Linked DNA regions of Homo sapiens. The protein of the gene in region 3 interacts with the protein of the main gene of each other region in a pairwise test. Each region holds a gene or a part of one and is shown on either strand. Other genes may lie near its edges. The genes, in order: TENT5C, TSPOAP1, MVP, RAB3IP, ZBTB32, NNT and DLX2.

Region 1 (3,500 bases), on a different chromosome or scaffold from region 3:
GTCCACCTCCCATCCACCATGGCAGACCTTGAGCTTGGTGGAAGGGAGTCAGCAGTTCCCAGACACTAGTCTCGCAGTTGAGGACCTGGGGTCAATTCGCTTAATCTTTTCTGAACCTTATTACTTAATTTGTGAAAAAGGGATAGTTGTAGATTCCTTAGAGTTCCTATGAGGATTAGATGGGAATTGAAGTGAAGTGGCTCATACTAAGTACTATTTCATTTGCTTTGACACACACCTCTACACCCTTCATTTCACAAGCAAAGAAGAGATGGACTTGGAGTCGTGGTTGTCATTCACTCTTGTTAAGGGAAGAAGTGGGATAGGATAGTATGAAGTGTATTGCCACCACTTTTATTTCTGCTTATGTTCTCTAGGTTTTCATATGTAATGGAATGGTCTCTTTTTGTCTAAAGTGTCCTCTTGTACACGGGGGAGGAGTTTGTGTGGAAGATGTGTGGGAAGAGCCACAGGTGCACGGGTCCCCTGTTGGCCAGGAGCCAGGGCCCACAGGTGTCTTTGTTCCAGGTACACACTTCTCTTGGAGTCTGTCACCAGGCTTGGCGCATTGCCCAAGATTCCAGCTCTTACCTTGGGTTAGAAAGTTTTACTGGGAAGAACCACACATTTGAGGTAACATCCAGAAATAGTGAAAGAGAATTTGTCCCCAAAGGAAGGCTGAAATGTGTTTGATTTTCTTTTGTATTCATAAACCCTCAGGAGGGTCAGAAGAAGGTAACACTTAGTTGCCTCTGGACTGCTGAAAGCCCTCAATAGCTGAGAGCCTCAGTTCAAGCCTCAGCATTTTCCTGAAATTTTCTAGACAATCACTTCCATAGCTTTCATGTTAAAGGTCACAGACCTAGACTTAGATATATGCAGTCCTTAACTTGATAGATGTATGTCTCCACACATACTAAGAACCTTGTGGACGGTTTCTGTGTCTAATGCCAGGCACAAAATAAGAATTAATGTTGCTTTGACCGAATTGACTGTGTGCAAATGTTATAAATGCTCACAGTTACCTCCCCTCCAGCTCATGCACCTGCCTCTCCCGCTCGCCCACCTTGGGTTCCTCACACTTTCATCGTGTTTCTGGAGTTCACTGGCTAGTCCAGAGATCTAGATAAGCTATGAAGCAGGACTAGAAATAGCTTTTTTTTTTTTCTTTTCAGTGCTCAAACATAGGTTTTCAGACCAATCTGCGTTGAGCAGCTCTGTCCTGGGCAGTGGGAAATGATTAGATCAGACATCAAACTTTTTCTCAGGGACCTTGGTTTAACCTTCTGGCCTAGTTTGTTTTTTCCTTTCTTTTGCTGCTATCTCTGCAAACCTCTTTTTTTTTTTTTCCCTTCAGTGTGTGTATTCTACCTTTACTGCAGTCAGATAATAGAAGAAAAGGGAGTACGAAAGTACCTGAGATAGTTGGTCATCTTGAATTGTCAAAAACAAACCCTGAATTCTCAAATCTGCAGGAACAAATTATGGTTTCCACCTTTCCCCATTTCTACTGTATAAATATAATGAATCTGTTTCTCAAACAGTAAAAGGGAAATGAAACACTTTAATTTGAATTTACTAGGCTTCAAATTAATTTGTTCTCTATTTTGTTAATTCTGCTAACTAGAATTTGCCTTTAACCAGGGCCTTTCATGAATTGGGAATGTGTGTTCCACGTGATTCTTTTATATGGGGATTATATCAGTGTTGATTTAACGTGGTTAATTAAAACTAAAAACTGTTGGACTAAGCACTGATGTGTTACCTAAACACTGAGGGCCTATGACTTGGATGTATTCTAGTAATACCAATGTTTGTCTAAGTAACTTTAAAATGTACTTTTGGTATTTGAAATTGTTTGGACGAGTGAGGGACAATGAAGAATCCCTTTCTAATAGGCACAAGTGACTTATTTTATGCTCTTCCAATGAGCTAAGCACTTAGTATGAACTCAGCTTAAATTTGTGTCTTCAGTGGCTTAAACTCCTCTCTATGTAAATCATGGTAAATTGAGAAAGTGAAAAACTACGCCATGGACTTGGCATTTGTCATGTCCCACACTGTGCTTTTATACAGACTTTTTCCCCTAGAATTTAACTCCAATATTCATATATGTATGAGAAGAAGTTGTCATGGAAGATGCTAACCACAGGCATATTGTATTTCTGAAAAAAGTGTTTGTTAAAGTTTTTGCAGCTGTAGCCAGCAACCAACTTAACAGTATCACAAGGGTAGCTACATGTTTGAAATGAGAAATAGCAATTCTGTGAAACTGAAAAAAAAAATTTCTTTTGGTTAACATAGAATGAGATGAGAGGAGATGGATTTGCATGAATTAGAGAGTCTGAGGTTTTTTTTTAATGAGCATCTTTTTAAAAAGTATATGAGTAGAAACTTGATAGAAAGGCATTCTAAAGGAAAAGAGTCTCTCTTCCTCTGTTCATCCCCTTATCTGTAGAGATCAGCATTTACATCTTGGAGGTGAAGCTTCCAAGTGTACTTAATTTTGTCACATGGATGTGGGAATGCAGAATGTGGAATGTAGAGAGGAGGGGTGGGAAGGAAAAAGGGGATTGAAGAAGTTAAATAAGGCAGCAGGTGAATAGAAGGCTCCTAAGGGAGAAGCTTTAGGATCATAAGGTTTTAATTTTTCTTCAACTAATACATATATAGATTCCAAATTCAAAGGGCACAAAATAAGTTTTCTTCTTCTAACTTTGAATCTACTTCCCCTAAACTAGAGGAAGTATTTGGTACAGACTAAAACTACTACCTGCATATGTTTCCAGAGACTTTATATGCTTGTGTAAGCACAGACTTTAACAGTTTTGCTGTTAGCAGTTTTGCTATTAACTTGTTTTTCTATTAATGAGTCTTGATAAGCATTTCACAGTCATACAGAAAGAACAGCTGTCTTGAATTGTCATCTCGAATTGTTGAAAACAAACCCTGAATGCTCAAATCTGTAGGAACAACTGCATGCGTTTCTGTATTGTTTTATACACACATCAGATCATTTAACCATCTTCTATTGGTGAATACTTATAGCTTTATAAATAATTCTCCAATGAATATTTTGTGTATACTTGCAAATATACTAAGGATATAATTCAAAGTAGACTTACCAGAAGTAGAATCCCTATGTCAAAGAGTATATCTCCTTAAAATTAAGTGTCTTGTGTCCGGAGAGAGCCCACAAGCAGTATACTAGAGGGTGTCTGATTCCCACATATCAGACTTAGTGATCTTTGCCCATTTGATGGATAAAAATGATACGTTGAGGTTTTAATCTGCCCCTCTCTTAAGTAAGGTTGTGACTGTAATAGGTGTTTGAGATGTAGTTTGTGTCCTTTGTGTCTTCTCTGTTGGGGTTCTTCTGGTATTTCTGATTTGTTGAAGCTCCTTATTCATTATGGAAATGAGTACTTTGCCTAATGTTACAAATATTTTTCCTACTTTTGCCTTCTGACTTTATGGTGTTTTTGAATTATATAGTCAAA
Region 2 (3,500 bases), on a different chromosome or scaffold from region 3:
TCCCTGATAACGCAAATAAGATCAGGGTCCCCTTCTTCCGTCACCCATGGCCTGGCCTCCTGGGTGTTCTGGACAACAGGGCCCAAGCCCACATACCTGCTGGGAGTGTGGTGAACTGCAGGGTGGCAGCCCGCTGCTCCAGCCTCTCCCAGCCTGGTTCCCAGGGCCCTTGGGGTGGGAGCTGAGCCTCCACTTGGGCCTGATAGGGTGTGCCAGGCCGTAAGTGGCAGAAGGTGGCCCAGTAGGTACTGGGGCTGGCAGGTGGGCACTCTTCCCCATTGAGGTAGATGGCATGGGCCAAGTTGCTATTGCCGGGCACCCAGGTGATCTCAGCAGATGTGGCTGTCAACCGATGGACCCGCAGCTGGCTGGGCACCACTCCGGCCCGGGCACCCACCGCCAAGCAACAGCGCAGTGGGTCAGAGCTGCCCCGGCTAGTCAGGGCCTGGACAGAAATGTGAAGGGGCCCGGCCCACAGGTCCAGGTTCTCCAGCACGGCCTTGGGTGGCGCCCCAGGCCCCAGGGCCTGTCGCAGCTCCCCATTCACACAGATATGGAAGCCGTGTAGCTCCACTTGCTCAGGAGGCGGCTCCCAGGCCAGCACCACGCTGTGGGCCAGCTGCTTGAGGACCACCAGACGGCGGGGGTAAGGCACGGCAGGAGGCTCGCCCAGGCCCTCCGGTGATGGGCTCAGACTGAGCTCGTCCCCTGCATCCTCCTCCTCAGGTCTGGGCTGGCTCCTTCCCACACTGCTTTGGCCCCCGCTACTGCTGCCACCCCCACCTACACTCAGGAAACTGAGTTCAGGGCCTGAGCTGTGGGACAAATCGGCCAGCTCTGGAGGGAGGGAGGTCAGGAGGTCATCATCCGACACACGCTCTACAAAATTGGAAGGGACCAGGCCCCTTCGGCCATCCATGAGCTCTCCTGGCAGGAGGAGGACAGGAAGGGGCAGGGCAGGGGAAGACAGAGAGGAGATAAAGAAAAAACGGTATAATAAATGCATTTTAGCAACTGCTAGTGGGTGATCTTCAGCATTTGATTCAAATCAACATTTAACTGTCAATTCTTTTAAAAGACAAGAGCAGTAAAGATCTGGATTAGAGATAGGTCTGATAATAGTATTTTGGTTCTATAGGACAGTGCTTCTTCAATTTTAACTTGCATATGAATCACCTACAGATTTGTTAAAATGCAGATTCTAACTCGGTTGGGTCTGGATGGGGCTGAGATTCTGTGATTCTAATAAGCCACCAGGTGACACTCAAGCTGCAAGGATGGAGGAGAATATCATGTTCTAAGTAAGCATGTTGAGTATTTCAAGGTAAAATATCATAATGCTTTTAAAATCATGTTTAACCTACATATAAAGCAAATATGCCAAAGTTTTAACAATTGTTGAATCTAGGTGCTGGCTATATAAATATTCAAATATATTCTGTACATTTGAAAACTTTTGTGTTAAAAATTGCAATAATAATTTCATAATTTCATATTAAAGTTTTAAAAAATAAGCAGGTCAGGATAAGAAAACTGGCCAGGCATGGTGGCTTATGCCTGTAATCCCAGCACTTCAGGAGGATGAGGCAGGCAGATCGCTTGAGCCCAGGAGTTTGTGACCAATCTGGGCAACATGGCAAAACCCAATCTCTACAAAAAATGCAAAAATTAGCTGGGAGTGGTTGCACGCCTGCAGTTGCAGCTACTCAGGAGCCTGAGGTGGAAGGATTGCTTGAGCCCGGGAGGCAGAAGCTAGAAGTCATAATCGCGCCACTGCACTCCAGCCTGGGCGACAGAGCAAGATGCTGTATCAAAAAAAAAAAAAAAAAAATTCTGCTGGTTGGGTTTTACCTGGGCCTGAGGAATAGGGGCCAGGGTGCCCCTCAACTTCTCTTTGTGAACAGCAGACATCCACAGAGGGAGAGAGAGACAACCAACTCAGCAGGGTAAAGGAGGAATCTTTAGAGACAAATGAAGTAAGTGCTAGTGAAATAGTCACTTGTAAGTTCTAGAAGGATCAGGAGCCCCAGCAGGCCTGTGTCTAGCAGCATGATTGACAGCAGTCAATCCAGGCAACCACCAATGGTTATGTTTTGTTACCTGCATCAGTTCTCCTGAAGACTTGACAAGAGAGTATTTTAAAACATTTGCTGTTGTTTGATTGAGGGATGTCAAGGAAGCTGGGCACCCAGCATGTAATGTCACGGTCAATTTAAAGAAGAAAAAAAGGTCTCAGGAAACAGACAGCTGGTAGCTGGTGTGCTTTATTGAGAGGAAGGGGGAGCACGAGCCAGGGCTTAGGGGAGAGGGGTGAGTGTAGGCAGGTCTGAGCTGCAGGGGGGCCTGGAGTTTCCCCCAACAGTCATCTGTGCCCCTCACCTCCACCCTCTCTCTCTCTGCCTATGCTAGGCAAAAAAAAAGTAAGGAACTTGAAGAAACAAGAGGGACTGTCAATAAATTCACTGATATAATAAGCACTGTAGAGGGTTGAATGGTGGCCGCCCAAAAACATGTCCATGTTCTAATCCCCAGAACTTGTGAACATGACCTTATTTGGAAAAAGCGTCTTTGCAGATGTAATTAAGTTAAGGATCTTGAGATGAGATCATCCTAGATTATCCGGGTGGGTCCTAAATCTAATGACAAGTGTTTTTATAAGAGACATGCAGAGGAGAAACACTAAGAGGAGGAGGCAATGGTGACCACAGATAGAGACTGGAGTGAGGTGGCCATAAGCCAAGGAACAACTGGAGCCACCGTAAGCTAAAAGAGACAAGGAACGGAACCTCCCCTAGAGCCCCCAAGGGGATGCAGTTCTGCCAATACTTTGATTTCAGACTTCTGGCCTCCAGAAGAGGCCAGTGAGAGAATAAATGTCTATTGTTTCAAGCCACTCTATGGTAATTGCTCCTGCAGCCCTAGGAAACGATCATAAGCACCAGCACTGTGGAGTGGGAGACAAAGGCAGGAGTCTTCACACTAAGAGGATCTCCAGCCTGCAGGGCTGAAGCTGGAGCCTGGGCCGGAGTCAGGCACATGCTCCAGAAGCCCATGCAGCTGAGAACAGCCTAGGTGGCCCAGACATAGACGAAGCAGTCCTTTAGCTAAGGTTGGACAGGGAATACGGCATCTTGCCCCCGGTGGCATTTACATCTATCCCAATTTATCCCAGATCGCAGAGTTCAAATTCTAGTCATTTGTGGTTAGTTAATACTTATGCCTTTGCTGCCCCCTCCAAAAATAAAGTGTTTGGGTTTTGGTTTTTGATTTGGGTGGGGTTTTTTTTTCTTCATTTATAAAGTATTATTTTCCTGAAAGCTTTTTAATTCTGATCTTCATAATCTACCCCTGTAGGGAGTTTAACTGTTTAGGCCACAAAGCCAGGTACCATGGGTCTCAGCAGCTCCTCAAGTAACAGGCAGAGGACCCAGGGAAAAGAAACTGAGCAGGCTCCCAAGCTTCCAGGGTTACAGATTCAGAGCTAAGCCTGTTCCTAAATC
Region 3 (3,500 bases):
AGGCATGAATCTGGTGACAGACTCTGGGTGGGATACGGCCCTACCTCCTCCAGCCAGGCCACTGCACCCTTCCCTGTCCGCATCTGCATGCCCACTGCTCCCTGTCTTCACCCCACCCAAGACGACACAGCCCATCCTGACCTTACCTTTGCCAAGAACTGCTTGATGCAGTGAGCCACAGAGGCCCAGGGTTCCTTGCCAATTCCTTTCCCTCACTCCCATCAACTACTTCCCCCTACACTGCCACCGGCACTGCAAAGAGCTTCAGATCAAGGTGCTCCCAGTCTCTTACGGTGGAGAGATACAGCAAGCTGGGAAACTGGGGAGCCATGGAGGTGGTGACATGGCCTTGTCCAGCACGCAATGGGCAGCTGCTCTGAGGAGCTGCCTGGCTCCTCCAGAGGGAGGCAGCCCTTTATTTCAGAGAATCCTGAGGCCCCAGCTGTATTCAAATGTCAGCCCATAGCCAAAGAATATCTGTATGCCTCAGGTAGTCCAGTGGCTAGGATTCGGCCATAAACAAAAGGAATGTTTACATGAGCTGTGTCTATGTTCCCTGCCTCTTTCCTATGCTTTAGTAATCCTGGGCTGAATGTGAAGACCTAGTCCACTGCTCATAAAGGGATCCCAGATGGAACTGAGCCTTCCATAGAACCAGCTGCATTACTAACACTGCAAATCACTCTGGCCCCCTCGTCCCCAGTTCTCTCCCATCCTCAGCTCCTGCAGTTGTGAGCAAGGGTAGGGTGGAAAGGAAGGAGAAGGGGGATGATTATCATGTTCCACCCACCCATCCCACCTGCTTCTGAATCCTGAGTAGTTTCACCCAGTGCTTGGCCTGTTCAGGAATGTCACATGCCCTACCTAAGCCCCACCCCTGCCCCCAGCACTTTGGACTTTGGACATGTCCCTTTGAGTCACACAAATGGGACCAAGTTTACTAGGTGCTCCAGAGCCTCATCCTTAAGAGACTCAGGTCAGACTTTTTTTTTTTTTTTTTTTTTTTTGAGACGGAGTCTTACTCTGTCACCCAGGCTGGAGTGCAGTGGTGCAATCATAGCTCACAAAAGCCATGCCTCAGCCTCCTGGGTAGCTGAGACTACAGGTACATGCCACCATGTCTAGCTAATTTTTTTTTTTGGAGAGATGAGGTCTCATTATGTTGCCTAGGCTGGTCTCGAATTCCTGGCCTCAAGCAATCCTCTTGCCTCTGCCTCCCAAAGTGCTGGGATTATAGGCGAGCCATCACACCTGGCCGATGAGGAGCCTCTTTTGTCTGGTGGTGGCCTCAAAAATGTCTGGCCAGGACAGGTGCAGTGGCTCATGCCTGTAATCCCAGCATTATGAGAGGCAGAGTGAGACTCCATCTCAAAAAAAAAAAAAAAAAAGTGGTTCCTCATCAATTCCACCATCTACCCAGCCTCCAACCCCAGGTGAAAAATATAAGTGAGGGGAAGAAGGGAGTGGCCTGGCCGAGGAAAAACAGGCAGGAGCCACAGATTACAGAATCAAGGCTGGATACAGCCCAAGAGGAGTTATACTTGAGCCCCACGATCTGTAAAACTTCAACTTTTTGTTTAGAAATTGTGAGTCTTCACAAAATCCCAATTCCTGATTCACTTGAAGAATTAGAAGACCAGCAATACAGCCTACAGTCAAGCAGCAGCTGCCCCATTTAGATGGAACACAAGCTTTCCCACCTACCACAGTCCCCACCACCCCCTGCTGCCTTACAGCTATGCCATTGCACTGCCCAGCTCTTGTTTAAAAACCCTTTAACTTGGCCGGGCGTGGTGGCTCAAGCCTGTAATCCCAGCACTTTGGGAGGCCAAGGCAGGTGGATCACCTGAGGTCAGGAGTTCGAGACCAGCCTGGCCAACATGGCGAAACCCCGTCTCTACTAAAAATACAAAAATTAGCCAGTTGTGGTGGCGGGTACCTATAATCCCAGCTACTAGGGGGGCTGAGACAGGAGGATTGCTCGAACCTGGGAGGCAGAGGTTGCAGTGAGCAGAGATCGTGCCATTGCACTCCAGCCTGGGCAACAGAGCGAGACTCCAATCTCAAAACCAAACCAAAAAAACCCTTTTACTCAGCAGCGTCCAATAGAGCTTTCTACAATGATGAGAATATTCTAAATCTGTGCTGTCTTTGGACTAGCCACATCCACATGTGGCTCCTGAACACTTAAAATGTGGCTAATGGCCGGTCATGCTGGCTCACACCTGTAATCTCAGCACTTTGGGAGGCTGAGGTCGGCAGATCACAAGGTCAGGAGTTTGAGACCAGCCTGGCCAACATGCAGAAACCCTGTCTCTACTAAAAATACAAAAATTAGCTGGGCATGGTGGCACGTGCCTGTAATCCCAGCTATTTGGGAGGCTGAGGCAGGAGAATTGCCTGAACCTGGGAGGCAGAGGTTGCAGTGAGCCAAGATCTCGCCATTGCACTACAGCCCTGGGCGACAGAGCAAGACTCTGTCTTGGAAAAAAATAAAATAAAATGTGGCTAATGCATCTGAGGAACTAAATTTTTAAATTATTTTTTGAGACAAGGTCTTGTTCTGTTGCCCAGGCAGGAATGCAGTGGCACAATCATGACTCACTGCAGCCTCAACCTCCAGGCTCAAGTGATCCTCCCACCTCAGCCTCCCGAGTAGCTGGGATTACAGGCATGTGCCACCACGCCTAGCTAATTTTTTCATTTTTTTTGCAGAGACAAGGTCCTGCTATGTTGCCTAGGCTGGTCTCGAACTCCTGGGCTCAAGCAATCCTCCCGCTTCAGCCTCCTAAAGTGCTGAGATTACAGGGGTACGCTACCGTACCCAGCTAATTTTAATTTAAATTGCCAAATATGGCTGGTTGATCCCATACTGGACAGTAGAGCTCTAAATAGTTGAGACCCAGAGAGGGACAATGAATCCTTTAGGGCCACAAGCAAGTTAGTGGTGCTGTTGGGACTAGAACCCTGGTGGAATGCCTGGTCCTGTCTTTCTAGAGAGGCATCATGGTCCCGTGGCTCGGGGCACCCATTCCAACCCAGACTGCCCGGGCTTACAACTCTGATCGGCTGCTTTCGTGTTTTCACATAGTTTCCTCACTGCCTTGCCTCATTCTGAAAGAGGTTACAGTTTGGGTCTGTTTTCCTGGCACACTTTCCACATCACAGGGAGGTTATTCTGCTGCTCATTCTTTCATCTTGCAACTTTGTATGAGATCTGACCTTGATCTCATTTTCTGTTGCTCATTTTTGCTCAAAGTTACTTTCCCTTCGCTTGTAGGAGGGTGGCTTGTCTAACATCAGAGCTCCCTCTTCTGCGGTTTGGGAACACAGGGGCTTGCTTTCCGATGTCCTGGCTCTGTTCCTCTCGCCACTCTTATGGGGACCTTGTCTTTTCTTCCTATAGCCCTGTCCTGCTCACCTTTGATTCCACCCCCCAGTTGCTCCACAATACGGGGCTCTGTTCTGGAAAGACGACTTCCTAGAGTCCAGAGGGCTGG
Region 4 (2,420 bases), on a different chromosome or scaffold from region 3:
ATGTTTTAGTCCCTGGGTTAGGTGGTGGGTTTTGGGGTGGTTCATTTGTCATTAAAAGTAAGTACATGAGCTGGGTGTAGTGGTGCGTGCTTATAGTCCCAGCTACTTGGGAGTCTGAGATAGGAAGATCCTTGAGGCCAGTTCAAGGCTATAGTGTGCTATGATTTCACCTGTGAATAGCTACTATATTCCAACCTGGGCAACGTAGACCTTGCCCCCCTTTAAAAAAATTCAAAAACAAAATAAATGCATGGACAAATGAATAAGAGAGTTATGCATGGAACATCGGTGGTGTATTATGAATCAAGCATTATTACTAGCTCAGTTATATGTGCCTTCATTCCAAAACAAAAAATAAAAGGTAAGAAAATTGTTGAATTGCATTTGAGAGAGAGGAAAGGAAAGAATTCAGGTCTGAATCTTAGGCTTTTGGCTTGAGCTATTGCAGTTTATTGAGATGGGGAAATACATGGTGGGGAAAGTTTGGGTATGTGCATAACAGAGACAGAAATTCAGTGTTTGACAGATCAAGTGTGAGGTGCCCACTGAGCATCAAAGTGGATATGTTAAGCAGGTATTGGATGTACAAATCTAAATTCAGTAAGGTCAGTCCAGGAGAAAATTTGGGGAGTAGTTAGCCATGGGATCAGATGGGCGCTTTAGGGACACTTTGGAGATGAAGTACAGCACTGAGCCCTGAGTTCCTGTGACAGAGAAGCAGCCTGCAAAGACGAAAGGAGGAGCTGTTAGGAAGAGCAAGGCAACAGAAAAGGAAGAACCAGCATGCTGATTATGTTCAGGAGAGTGTTTCTACGCTGAATTTAATTGCCAAGATTACCAATTCTAAAGAAGAGGAGGACTCTTGGACAAGTTTTTAGAAGTTGGTTTGGAGCTGGGGTGAGAGCCTGGCCTAATGGAGACAGCTCTGGATTGGGAGTCACTTAGACCTACATTCTGGTCTAGGTTTGGCTCCCAAAAACTGGGAAGGTTAGTTAGGTGGCCACTCCTCTCTCTTCATGGTCTCTCTCAGCTTGAAGACAATTTACAGTCTTTGACTAAGCATCCACACTGGAAGAACAAGATTTGGTTTCTGAACATTGGGTCTTAGTCCTTAAAATAACTTGCAACCTGTTACGTCTTCACTTACTCCCATCGCCACCACAAGAATCCTGTGTGTTTTTGTTTTGTGCATCCAGTCTAAAACGGGTCTGCTTTTATTCATAGGCTTTTGTTTTCAGTGGTTTTTGTTGTTGCATTTTTCCCTAGATAAAATGTTTTTTCTATAAGACACTGCTTAAAAGAGTCCAATGCAGTATGAATTTGTATTTGTGTTTAACTTTTGTGCTTAACAGATCTGCCATGGCTGAACTCTCAGTTGCTTAAGCAAAATTCTGGGGCTTATTCTAGGTTCCTTTATTTGTCATTGTCACTCCCATTCCAGTTATCAGCAAATTCCATCAGCTGTCTCCGAGACATCTTAAATCTGTCTACCTCCCTCCATGTCCACTGCTACCACTCTGCCCAAGCTATTATCATCTTTCACCTGAACTCCTGCACTAATGTCTGCTGTCCTTGCATCCACTCCTGCCCTCCTACAATCACTGACGGCAGCCGCAGGGATCTTTATAAAACGAAAATCAGATAATGTCACTTCCCTGCTTAAAGCCCTTTGAGTGGCTTCCCATTGCACTTAGAAAAAAAAAAAAAAAAAAAAACTGGCCAGGTGCGATGGCTCATGCCTGTAATCCCAGCACTTTGGGAGGCCGAGGCGGGCGGATCCCCTGAGGTTGGTAGTTCGAGACCTGCTTGGCCAACATGGAGAAACCCTGTCTCTACTAAAAACACAAAATTAGTCAGGTGTGATGGCGCATGCCTGTAATCCCAGCTACTTGGGAGGCTGAGTCAGGAGAAACGCTCGAACCCAGGAGGCAGAGGTTGTGGTGAGTTGACATCACGCCATTGCACTCCAGCCTGGGCAACAAGAGTGAAACTCCGTCTGAAAAAAAAAAAAAAAAACCCAAACTCAATAGAAAATCAAGTTTTCATAGTGGTAGTTGTTAACAGAGAAATAACAATGAAAGCTTTAAAAAACTCCATGAAAATTTGCAAAACTTAAAAAAAAAATGTAGAAGAGGACTAAACTTGATAAAATATTAAAAGAATTGAAACCCTTCCTAAAGGCAGCTTCTCAAGGGAGCACAAGTTCACACACAGTTTACTTTTGGAGGAACGTCTGAGGTCATGAGGACTAGATTCTAGAGCTACAGGTCTCAGGGACAGTCTCGAGGGATACAGGGCCCCCATCACCACATCCCCAGATTTAACCGCAGCAGCTCAGCTTTTATCTGTATCTGTTGGAGCTCTCTAGGAAATGTCAATACCAAAGCAAACCCAAATCACAACTAGATTAGATTACTATT
Region 5 (3,500 bases), on a different chromosome or scaffold from region 3:
TGGGCTTTCGGGGAACCTAAAAGGGAGGAGGGGCAAGGGAACTCCCCTTTCAGTGAACAAAAGCCCCCAAGAATGGGGAACCCCACCTAAGGATATCCCCTTAGAGACCGCCTCCTAGAATTATCTCCAGGGCCCTTTGCACTGCAACCCTTATGCTGATGACACCCTGAGCACTTCTCTAGCCTCTTCCTGCATTCTTGACAGTGCAACCCAAGCCATCCTGCACTGAGCACAGATGGCAGAAGCAGACAGCACTTTGACTTGGAAGAGTAGGGACACTGCTGGTGCTGTTTTGTTTTTATTTTGAGACAGAGTCTTGTTCTGTCACCCAAGCTGGAGTGCAGTGGCGCCATCTCGGCTCACTGCAACCTCTGCCTCTGGGTTCAAGCGACTCTTGTGCCTCAGCCTTCCAAGTATCTGGGGTTACGGGCATGCACCATCACACCCGGCTAATTTTTTTGTATTTTTAGTAGAGATGGGGTTTCACCATGTTAGCCAGGCTGGTCTCGAACTCCTAACCTCAGGTGATCCACTGCTGGGATTACAGGTGTGAGCCACCATGCCTGGTCTGTTGCTGTTCTTAAAAGTACTCCCCCTCCCTAGACTCAAAAACCTTGCCCCCCCTTCCTCTTCCTGGGCTGACTCGGTAGGAATCATCTGCAGTTGTCTCTCTGGAAAGAGCAAAGAAACAACAGGTTATGCAGACACAAGCCTGTGTCCTGCCAGAGGGTAGAGCAGGTAGAGAGATTAGGTAGGGCATGATTGGAAGGGGAGTATGTGATAAAAGGCAATATGATATCAGCCTCTCAGTCCTTTTTAATACTTATATTACTTTCTTTTTTTTTTTGAGACAGAGTTTCACTCTTGTTGCCCAGGCTGGAGTACAATGGCGCTATCTTGGCTCACTGCAACCTCCGCCTCCCGGTTCAAGCAATTCTCCTGCCTCAGCCTCCCAAGTAGCTGGGATTACAGGCAACTGCTACCATGCCTGACTAATTTTTTGTATTTTTATTAGAGATGGTGTTTCACCATGTTGGCCAGGCTGGTCTCAAATTCTTGATGTCAGGTGATCCACCCACCTCGGCTTCACAAAGTGCTGGGATTACAGGCGTGAGCCTACATGCCCGGCCTAATACTCGTATTACTGAATAAAATTTGAAATCTGATTTTTTTTTTTTTGAGACAGAGTCTTGCTCTATTGCCCAGGCTGGAGTGCAGTGGCGCAATCTCGGCTCACTGTAACCTCCGCCTCCTGGGTTCAAGTGATTCTCCTGCCTCAGCCTCCCGAGTAGCTGGGATCACAGGTGTGCATCACCAAACCCGGCTAATTTTTTGTATTTTTAGTAGAGACAGGGTTTCACCATGTTGGCCAGGCTGGTCTCGAACTCCTGACCTCATGATCTGCCCGCCTTGGCATCCCAAAATGCTGTGATACAGGCATGAGGCACCACGCCTGGCCTGAAATCTGATAGTTCTTATTCTTACTGGTAGACTTGACCAATGGGACACTAAGGGAAAAATGTGCAAGGGGCTCGGGGCACACCCTGGCTGCAAAGTCAAAGCTTCCCAGAAATCCTTGTATCATGAACTTCTTGAGGCACAACCCAGCTTGATGTAACAATGTCAACACAGCAACACAAATACCAATTCTCCTTAAATATTATAATTAAAATCAAACCATCAGAATAGACCAATGGGAGGGATGATCATTTGTTTTGTGAAAAAGTTCTCCCTCTATTTCACTTATTTTAAATATCAAGCCCTCTTCCCAAGCCAAGTTGAACAAGATTCAATTTAGAAAAATTCTGTGAACTCGCCACTCTTCCCGTGAACCCATCTCTTTCCACAAATGAAGGTGGTTAAATTCCCCACAGCATTTTATATAGATTAAGAGCGATTATCCAAATCTTACATGAACTTTAAGTATGTTTACTCTTTCGCCAGGCGCAGTGGCTCACACCTGTAATCCCAGCACTCTGGGAGGTGGAGGCAAGCGGATCATCTGAGGTCGGGAGTTCAAGACCAGCCTGACCAACATGGAGAAACCCTGTCTCTACAAAAAATAAAAAAAATTAGCTGGGCGTGGCGGCACATGCCTGTAATTCCAGCTACTCGAGAGGCTGAGGCAGGAGAATCGCTTCAACCCGGGAGGTGGAGGTTGCGGTGAGCCGAGATCGCGCCATTGCACTCTAGCCTGAGCAACAAGAGCGAAACTCTGTCTCAAAAAAAAAAAAAGAAAAAAGAAAAAAGAAAAAAAAGATGTTCCGTCTTTCTGGTTAAGTACATCCAAGACTTCCAGAAAAGAGTCACCACAAGGAGTGAATTAGTTCCCTTTTTCCCTTAAATTTGTGCTCTATATGATCCAAGAACCAGCTATAGTCATACCCAGGTGAGCTGAATCTAGCCCCTTCATAGCACACACTTTGTGGATTAACTGGAAAAAGAACTAGACTAGAAGTTGGAAAACAGGTTTCACTGCATCCCTTCACAGTGAATGGCCCTTCTCTTCAGCACTCATATGGAGCTAAGTCTTCCAAGACCCTCAATTTCCTCACAGGGGCTGTTTCAAGACCAGTACAGAATACTAGTGTTGACTTAAACCTGGGCAAAGGGTCCCATTTGGACCTCCTCTGGCTGTATCCCTTCGCATAGGCTGAGTCAAAAGGCATCTAGAAAGTGCCTACCCGGAACTGTGAGCTCCCACCTCACTTCTGGACCATGCTCTGAGAACTCAGCACCCTGGATTTCCTGGACCAAATGACTCTGAGGCCCCCTACACAGGACTCAACCCCAGGCCTGTATTCATGAGAGTGGACTCTGACTGATGTACACACACGCTAGACCCTGATTTTGTGTAAGGGATTTGTAGACTGAGCTTGGATGTGCAGGCTAGAATGTGAGACACCTTGAAGTATGGGCCAACACCAGGCATGGGAAGAGACGAGGGAGTCTCTGTCATCTTGCCCAGGCCCCATAAATAATATAGGAACCTACTTTATTCCAATGGTTCTAAATCTCTTAGGGAGTCACCATCAGGTTCAGAATGTCACCCATGGGACTAACTCTTCTTTTTATTGAGACAGAGTCTCCTTCTGTCACCCAGACTGGAGTGCAGTGGCACGATCTTGGCTCAGTGCAACCTCTGCCTCCCAGGTTCAAGAGATTCTCCTGCCTCAGCCTCCTGAGTAGCTGGGACTACAGGCACGCACCACGACACCCGGCTAATTTTTGTATTTTTAGTAGAGATGAGGTTTTACCATGTTGGCCAGGCTGGTCTCAAACTTCTGACCTCAAGTGATCCACCCGCCTCAGCCTCCCAGAGTGCAGGGATTACAAGTGTGAGCCACCCAGCCTGGGACCAATTGTTGACATTAGAAAATGGTAGACACAGGCCGGGTGCGGTGGCTCACGCCTGTAATCCCAGCACTTTGGGAGGCCGAGGTGGGCGGATCACAAGGTGAAGAGATAGAGACCGTCCTGGCCAACATGGTGAAATGCCG
Region 6 (3,500 bases), on a different chromosome or scaffold from region 3:
AGTTTCTGTTTATAAATTCTACTCAAATCTCTGGATGACTCTTGAACTACACATATGTGAGACAGACTCCAAGCAATCCTGTTAAGGATAAAATAACAATAGATTTCAGCTGCCCCCCACCACCCACCATAAGGGAGTCAAAATTTGGAATTTGAGTTTAGCCAAGTTAGCTGGCTACAAAAACACATAAATAAATAATAATAATCAATACCCTTTGAAGGAATATAACATAACATCCAAAATGTCTATAATGTATCATTAACAATGTCCGTGATACAACTCGAAATTACTAAACACATGAAAGGAAAAAGCTTTTTGCTTTTTATTTCACATGTTTTTACCTTTTTTTGTTTGTTACAATGAGAGCATATTCATGTATTACTCATTTAAGCCAAAAGCAATAAAATAAATTCAAAAAATACTTTGTCTTAGTCAGACATTCTCATAGAACCAATAAATCCTTTAAATATCATAGTCACTGCTTCCCAAAAACAACAATTCTTAAAGTTTTAGATTTGTATATCTTTTTTTCTTTCTTTTTTTTTGAGACAGAGTCTTGCTTTGTCACCCAGGCTGGAGTGCAATAGCATGATCTCGGCTCACTGCAACCTCCGCCTCCCAGGTTCAAGCGATTCTCCTGCCTCAGTCTCCCGAGCAGCTGGGAATACAGGCGCAGACTACCACACCCGGCTTATTTTTGTATTTTTAGTAGAGACGGGGTTTCACCATGCTGGCCAGGCTAGTCACAAACTCCTGACCTCAGGTGATCCACCCACCTCGGCCTCCCAAAGTGCTGGGATTACAGTCATGAGCCACCTCACCCAATCACATTTGTATATCTTTTATTTTGAGACTTCATCAACCTATTCTGCTTTATTAGATTAAAAATATCAAAATTATTTTTCTTTTGTTTAAAACAAAAACCAGTGCAATAAGCCAGAATAAAATTAGACCATGAGTGTGAATATAAAGATGAGATTTTAATTTACTTTTCAGTGTTCTAAAATTTCTGTGTTAAAATCATGACCTAACTGCCATGATCACACAAAAATAAGTATCATTTTTACACTATAAATTAGGTGTTTCTCAATCAAGGAGCCAGTAAGTATTTCATAAGCAATTGCTATGTGTCTAACTTTGTGTTAGTTACTGTAGATAATTTTTTTAACTTAAATATAAACCTTGTCTACGGATTACACACTGAAAGAACATGAGTAACAGTGAATAACAGTAAATAGCGCTGCATAAAACAGCATCATACATTGATATAAGATGCCAGACTGTCACATAGACAACTAAAAACTACTGTGTGTTTCAATACACTAAATATAAAAATTGCAGAGAAAGAAGAAAGCCAAACCTATCATAAAAGCCTTCACTGAATACTCTCACTGAGCATACAGGGTTTTTTAACTGCATTTCATTTTATACTTATTTGATTTCGTGTCATATCTTCCAATGATGTAAGAGCAACTGGTGGGCAGAGACTATCTTACTTGTATTGTATAAACCCCGAAGCACTATTTTGTAGGGCTTGTCATATAGTAGGCACCTAATACATTGAAACCCTTGGCCTTTTTAAGCTCCTGTTCACCAACACATTGATCCGGTGAAAAGACTCCAGAGCAATAAAGGTGTCTCATGTGACAACTTTAAAATGAACAATTAAGTTGCAAGAAAGAATAATGTTCTTCCTACACTCTTCTATGTTTTCCAGATTCTAAAAAGATGCACATGTGACGTAATTTTAAAACATTTTTATTCCATCAAGGTTCTTGAAGAGATAAAAATATGATTACACTTTAATCTAACAAAATATTCCCAGTTCTTCACCAAATATGTACTTTTCAATCTCTGACTTCTTACCATGACAGCAGAGAGAGCAGACACTGAACCCAGACAGGTGATGCCAGTAGTAAAGCTTGGGTCCACCATGAATGGGATTATCCCGCCCACACTAGCAGCCAGTAAGCCTGCATTGAGTAAGTGCCTTCCAGGCAGTAGGAGAGGGGCAGATTTCAGGAGACCTAGAGCCAAGCACATAGTAGTTACAATTCAGAATGTGTTGTAAGAAAATACATAAAGTTCATTTCTGTGAATTCTACACAGTCATCTCTAACCAAGGATTATGAGGATGCTGTTTAGTTCACATATATTATCAAAAGTCAACTAGTCCCTCCATGCAAATTTCTGTTCACTAATTTCCTCCATTAGCTGTCTGCAAATGAAACAGCTTCAAAGCTTTATGAGACTTACTAAGTATCAATAAAGGGGAAGGATGAGGGGAAAAAAACTCTTACAATTTCTGAGTGCTATACGAATACTCTTCACCTAACAGTTTTACTGTTAAGGCATTTTTTTTAATCTTTTTTATTAGTAGTAATATTTTATTTTTTATAAAAAGTAGAGATAGGGTCTCGCTATGTTGCCCAGGCTGGTCTTGAACTCCTGGGCTTGAGAGCCTCCCACCTCAGCCTCCCAAAGTGCTGGATTGCAGGCATGAGCCATTGCGCCCAGCCCTGTTAATGTATTTTCTGAAATTAAAATGGATCCCTAAATGCCCTAAACAGTAGATATTTACCTCTATGTTATGCTGAATCACTTACCCTGCAATTTTCCATAGGCAATGAGAGACCCACTAAAGGTGACGCCACCAATGTAAGTGCCGAGGTAGGCCACAATCTTGGTGAGATTTGCTGCTGCATCCGTAGCAAAATGTGGATATTCTATAATGTACTCAGCTATGCAAGTAAGTACAGCTGCCAAACCCACTAAACTGTGAAAAGCAGCAACTAATTGAGGTAAATCAGAAATCTGGATGCGTTTGGCAATTGTCAATCCTGTTATGAAAGGTCAAAAATAAATTAAAACTTGACAAACTTTTGAGAAGTAACCACAACAAAGATCACCCTTAAGGATTTCCACCATTGTCACAAATAAATATTATCTAGTTCCTAGTACGGGCTAAATATTCTCTACAGGGGCTGTACAGAAGGTAAGGGCACTAGTTGTATACAGGTTGAGTATCCCTTATCTGATATGCTTGGGACCAGAAGTGTTTCAGATTTTAATTTTTTTTAATTTTGGAATATTTTCATATACATAATAAGATATCTTGGGAATGGGACCCAGGTCTAAACACAAAATTCATTTATGTTTCATATATATATAGCCTGAAAGTAATTTTAAACAACATTTTAAATTATTTTGTGCTTGAAACAAAGTTTGTGTTAAGTATTTATGTGTGGAATTCACCACTTGTGATGTCATGTCAGCACTCAAAAAGTTTTGGATTTTGGAGCATTTTGGATTTTCGGATTAAAGATGCTCAACTTGTATACCCTTTCAAAACAGCAGTTTTTCTCCACACACCTAAGCACGACCCAACTCCAATGAACACCCAGCATCAATGCGTGCCTCTTCCCGTCACAAACTCCCAACCTTCCCCTAGCCAACACTTCTTCAGACTACCTAAATCTCTAATCAAATTCCCTTATATT
Region 7 (4,008 bases), on a different chromosome or scaffold from region 3:
AACTGCAGCGTCCGAGCTGAGCCCAGGGGAGCGGGCGAGGAGAAAGAAGCCTCAGAGCGCCCGGGAAGCCTCGCGCGCCTGGGAGGCTTCCATCTCCCGGGACCCAGCTCTCAGCCCGGGGCGAGGAAGGCGCCAGACAGGCTCACCCGGAGGGGAGGGAAGGCAAGTCCGAGGCGGGGCTCGAAACAGCCGAGACCCGGGGCTCAGGTCAGAAATGCGGCCTTTTAGGGAGGCCTTTGCCAAGCTGCTGTCCGGTTCCCCCGAGAGAGGGGCCCGTTTGGTGGCCCCGGGAGTGAGCAGGGCCTGAGACGGGCCACTGCAGGTCGCAGCCTGCAGGAGAGGTGGGTGGCGGCAGCGGGCCGGGAGGAGGGAACCCCGGCTCGGGGTAAGCAATGAGGATAAGTGGTCTCTGCTCTCAGTCTCTGGCGAGTTCTCCCTGGGGTTAGAAAATCGTCCCCGCGCTCACCGGGGCGCCCCCGCCGCCGTGATGGTGGTGGTGGTGATGCGGCTGCGGGGTCTGAGTGGGGTGCAGCAGCGGCGCCGTGGCCTGCAGGTGTGAGGCGGATCCCGAGGTCTGGTGGTACCAGGGGTAGTTGCCCAGAAAAGCCGAGGCCGCGCTGCTCGGGCTGGAGCCCGAGCTGCCGGCGCCGCTGCCGCCACTGCCCGGACCACCGCCGCCCGCCATCCGCTGCGGCACACCAAAGTCCCAGGAGGCCGGCGCTGAGACTGGCGGCGAAGCACAAGGTGGAGAAGCGCTGGCCCCAGGGTGCTGCTCCGAGGGGATCTCACCACTTTTCCACATCTTCTTGAACTTGGACCGGCGGTTCTGGAACCAGATTTTGACCTTTGAGGAAAAAGACCTGAGCATTAGTGGAGGAACCTAGTCTTGGGGCAGTAGGGGTTCGAAGAGGAGAAAAAAGAAGGCAGAGAAAAACCGCTGGCTAGCGGTGGGCAGCGAGCGCCCTGGGGAGATAAGAGGATCACGGGCGGCGGCCTTCGAGGCTCTGCCGGTTCCTGCTCCCTGGGGAGGTAATTGCCAAAAGGCCAGGACTGCTGGTGTACGTGCACTGTGATGATGGTGACAGCGGGAGGGTGAGGAGGGCCAGTTATTTCACCCGCTTAATCAGTAGCGAGAGGTACGGGATTTCTGTCCACCCGGTCCCTTTCCTTCCCTCCCACGGCGGCCCCTTGGGGGTTTCCAGCTTTGGGCCTAGAAGCTTACTTAGGGCCGCTCGAGGCGCAGGCCTGGAAATCCTTAAAAGTACTTAAAATGAACTTTAAAAAGCATTGTCCTAAACCCGCCTGCTTCCCAGCCATCTCAGGCCCGCGCTCTCCTCGCCCCTGCAGGGCGCGAGCCCCACCTGAGTCTGGGTGAGGCCCAGAGAGGCCGCCAGCTCGGCTCGCTCCGGCAAGGCCAAGTATTGAGTCTTTTGGAAACGCCGCTGAAGAGCCGCCAGCTGGAAACTGGAGTAGATGGTGCGGGGTTTCCGGACTTTCTTTGGCTTCCCGTTCACTATCCGAATTTCAGGCTCAAGGTCCTCCTTCTCTGCAACGATAAAGAATCGTAAGAACAGCGCAACCCAGGGGTCCTGGAGTTCCCGCCCTCCTAGAGGGCCCGGCGGGGGGGACTTGGCTTGAGCAAAGAGGTGGGTGCACTGAACTGTGGCGCCACGGGCAGGCGCAACTTCGCAGCGTGCGATCGGAGCCGCCACCGACCCCGGGAGCTGTACCCTCCAGGGAAGGGGGAGACAAGTGCACACCCAAGAGAAAGAAGCTGGTGGCAAGGAGATGCCCTTATGAGGCAGGCAGAGCACGCCCACTTGGCTCTTGAGGCCACCAGGTCCTACCAAAGGAGAGAGGGACGTAACCGGCGACCTGCGGCAGATTGGAGGCTGGGGAGGGTAAAGGGCACAAGCGGGCGGTGAGCAGGCAGCGTGAAAATCCAGAGCTTTCGAAGGCCCCCCGCCCCAAACACGTTTACCCATCCATCCCATTAACTAGACCGACTCGGCACTCTTGACTTCAGCGTTATGCATACCAGGCTCGTTGTTGGCTGGGGACGAACTGGTTCCATAGGGAGCGTAGGAGGTGTAGGCGGCGGTGTAGCCCAGGTCATAGCTGCTCTTGGCGGAGTAAGGGACGTTGTTGAGGCCGCTGGCTTGGTACTGGTAGGAACCCATGTGCGCGTAGGGCGAGCCCCCGCCGCCGCCGCCGCCCGCCGGGTGCTGCTGGTTGGTGTAGTAGCTGCTGTCGGTGGCGGTGGACACCGGAAGGGTGGGCGACTCCTGGGGCTTGTGGAGGCTGCTGCTGCTGCTGCTGTTGCCACCCGGGCCGGCGCCGCCGCCGCTCGGGGGCTGCTGGTGCTGGTGGTACGTGCTGGAGGCGGCGATCTGGGTCGAGTGCATATCAGCCACTAGACTGTCAAAGACTCCAGTCATCCTGGCCCGAGACGGGAAAGAGCAGAGGTGGCGGGCGTGCGGGGGAAGCCAGGCGCCTCCTCTGTCTCTCCCGGTCCCCTCCAGCAGCCAATGTAATTACGGGGGTGGTGGTGGGGAAACAAGAAAGGAGGCAACCGTCTAGGCGCCTCCTCCTCCGGGGGAGGCGATCACCGTGCGCTGCTCGGGACAGCTGCCTCTGGTCGCATCCTCTTTCGGCCTCTGGGCCCGCTCGGCTCCTTGCCCAGCGCGAGCGCGGGCTCTGGCGGGGGGCGGGCAGTGGAGGGGGCAGGGGTGGCTGGGCCGGGTCGGGGCTCTGGGAGGCGGGAGCAGGTGAGCGGCCCCGAGCGGCTTTACGATTGTCTGCCAGGCGGGCTCCTGAAGTGTGGGCATTTAACACTCGTCACGTGAGCGCTGGCGACGTCACCTAGCAACAGCCAATCAGAAGCAAACGGCCGCGGAGCTCCGGGAACGCCCGGCCAAGGGGCGGGCGTCACATGGTGGGCGCTGTGGCTGCGGCTGCGGCTGCAGCGGCCCCAGGTGCAAACAGACTGCCGCCGAATGTGAGCAGCGAGGCGAGGGGTCGAGGTAGCGAGGAGTCAGGGTGGCCCGCAGCAGGAAGACAGAAGGCGTGGAGACAGACTGGCGTTTTGCCTCAGAGGAAGAAGTGGGGTCCCCTCTCCCATTCTGTGAGCAAGTGCCAGTTCCAGTGATTCGTACTTTCATGTCCGAGGTCAGTTTTCAAACACATTAAAGTACATCGGTGCCCAGAGTCCAGCCAGCTCTATCTTCACTTTTCCTCGAAGTGTCTGGCATTTATTCTTGTTAGCCACTCGGCACTTGACATAATCAATTGATTTAATTATCCACAAACCACGTGTAATGCTCGCTTCTTAACCAATCCGCAGGGATATTAGGACAATTAATCATATAATATTGAAACGGGTTTTCCTTGTTGCTTCAAAGAGAAGCTACATAAACTTAAAGGTATTATTGCTAATAGTATATTTGAAACCACTTTCCCTGGTACTTTCCCGACACGCGAGACTCTGAGTAATTATATACGTTTGATAAGTAAATGACACCCTGAAAGCCATCCCGAGGACTTCCTCCTTCGGGTGGAAAGGTTCACCAGTTGTCCTTGAAAATTCGATGCTCTTGCGAAAAAGGAAATAGGATAATAGGTGAGATTATAGATTTATCAAGTAGATACTAGATTTATCACTTCTCTGTAAATTTACAACAAATATAAAAAGTTTTATCTGGTTTGTTGAATTTAATCCTGTTTTACAGTTTTGCATTTTAGGACCCTGTTCTACCCTATCATTGCAATTTTTTTCTTTTCCCTCTGTTTTTTAAAAAATCGGAAATGGTGACTTCCTCTGTCTCTATAACCTTGTAGTTGGAAACCTTGGCCCGACGGTGATGGACTGCACGACTTGCTGGACTCCCAAGTCCGAAGTTCCTGCGGCAGCGCTTGCTTTGTGGCGCCACCTGGTGGGCAGTGTGCGAGGTTGCGGGGGGCGGGGTAGACGGTCTAATCACGCCCAGGCGCCAGCCTCTGAAACCCCCC

The links.
Region 1: the proteins of MVP (region 3) and TENT5C interact in a two-hybrid assay, tested with the Homo sapiens proteins (one large-scale study listed by BioGRID).
Region 2: the proteins of MVP (region 3) and TSPOAP1 interact in a two-hybrid assay, tested with the Homo sapiens proteins (one large-scale study listed by BioGRID).
Region 4: the proteins of MVP (region 3) and RAB3IP interact in a two-hybrid assay, tested with the Homo sapiens proteins (one large-scale study listed by BioGRID).
Region 5: the proteins of MVP (region 3) and ZBTB32 interact in a two-hybrid assay, tested with the Homo sapiens proteins (one large-scale study listed by BioGRID).
Region 6: the proteins of MVP (region 3) and NNT interact in a two-hybrid assay, tested with the Homo sapiens proteins (one large-scale study listed by BioGRID and IntAct).
Region 7: the proteins of MVP (region 3) and DLX2 interact in a two-hybrid assay, tested with the Homo sapiens proteins (one large-scale study listed by BioGRID).

The regions. Positions count from the first base shown.
Region 1 is NC_000001.11:117,616,048-117,619,547, forward strand, and holds part of TENT5C (terminal nucleotidyltransferase 5C), read left to right. Parts: intron 1-3,500. UniProt on the Homo sapiens protein: Catalyzes the transfer of one adenosine molecule from an ATP to an mRNA poly(A) tail bearing a 3'-OH terminal group and enhances mRNA stability and gene expression.
Region 2 is NC_000017.11:58,311,796-58,315,295, forward strand, and holds part of TSPOAP1 (peripheral-type benzodiazepine receptor-associated protein 1), read right to left. Parts: intron 928-3,500; coding exon 97-927; intron 1-96. UniProt on the Homo sapiens protein: Required for synaptic transmission regulation. It probably controls the recruitement of voltage-gated calcium channels to the presynaptic membrane, and modulates neurotransmitter release.
Region 3 is NC_000016.10:29,826,962-29,830,461, reverse strand, and holds part of MVP (major vault protein), read right to left. Parts: intron 1-3,500. UniProt on the Homo sapiens protein: Required for normal vault structure. Vaults are multi-subunit structures that may act as scaffolds for proteins involved in signal transduction. Vaults may also play a role in nucleo-cytoplasmic transport.
Region 4 is NC_000012.12:69,818,860-69,821,279, forward strand, and holds part of RAB3IP (rab-3A-interacting protein isoform alpha 1), read left to right. Parts: 3' UTR 1-2,420. UniProt on the Homo sapiens protein: Guanine nucleotide exchange factor (GEF) which may activate RAB8A and RAB8B. Promotes the exchange of GDP to GTP, converting inactive GDP-bound Rab proteins into their active GTP-bound form.
Region 5 is NC_000019.10:35,707,558-35,711,057, reverse strand, and holds part of ZBTB32 (zinc finger and BTB domain-containing protein 32), read right to left. Parts: intron 1-3,500. UniProt on the Homo sapiens protein: DNA-binding protein that binds to the to a 5'-TGTACAGTGT-3' core sequence. May function as a transcriptional transactivator and transcriptional repressor. Probably exerts its repressor effect by preventing GATA3 from binding to DNA.
Region 6 is NC_000005.10:43,655,180-43,658,679, reverse strand, and holds part of NNT (NAD(P) transhydrogenase, mitochondrial), read right to left. Parts: intron 2,841-3,500; coding exon 2,607-2,840; intron 2,028-2,606; coding exon 1,867-2,027; intron 1-1,866. UniProt on the Homo sapiens protein: The transhydrogenation between NADH and NADP is coupled to respiration and ATP hydrolysis and functions as a proton pump across the membrane. May play a role in reactive oxygen species (ROS) detoxification in the adrenal gland.
Region 7 is NC_000002.12:172,100,101-172,104,108, forward strand, and holds the start of DLX2 (homeobox protein DLX-2), read right to left. Parts: upstream 2,801-4,008; 5' UTR 2,439-2,800; coding exon 2,039-2,438; intron 1,547-2,038; coding exon 1,362-1,546; intron 845-1,361; coding exon 443-844; 3' UTR 1-442. UniProt on the Homo sapiens protein: Acts as a transcriptional activator. Activates transcription of CGA/alpha-GSU, via binding to the downstream activin regulatory element (DARE) in the gene promoter.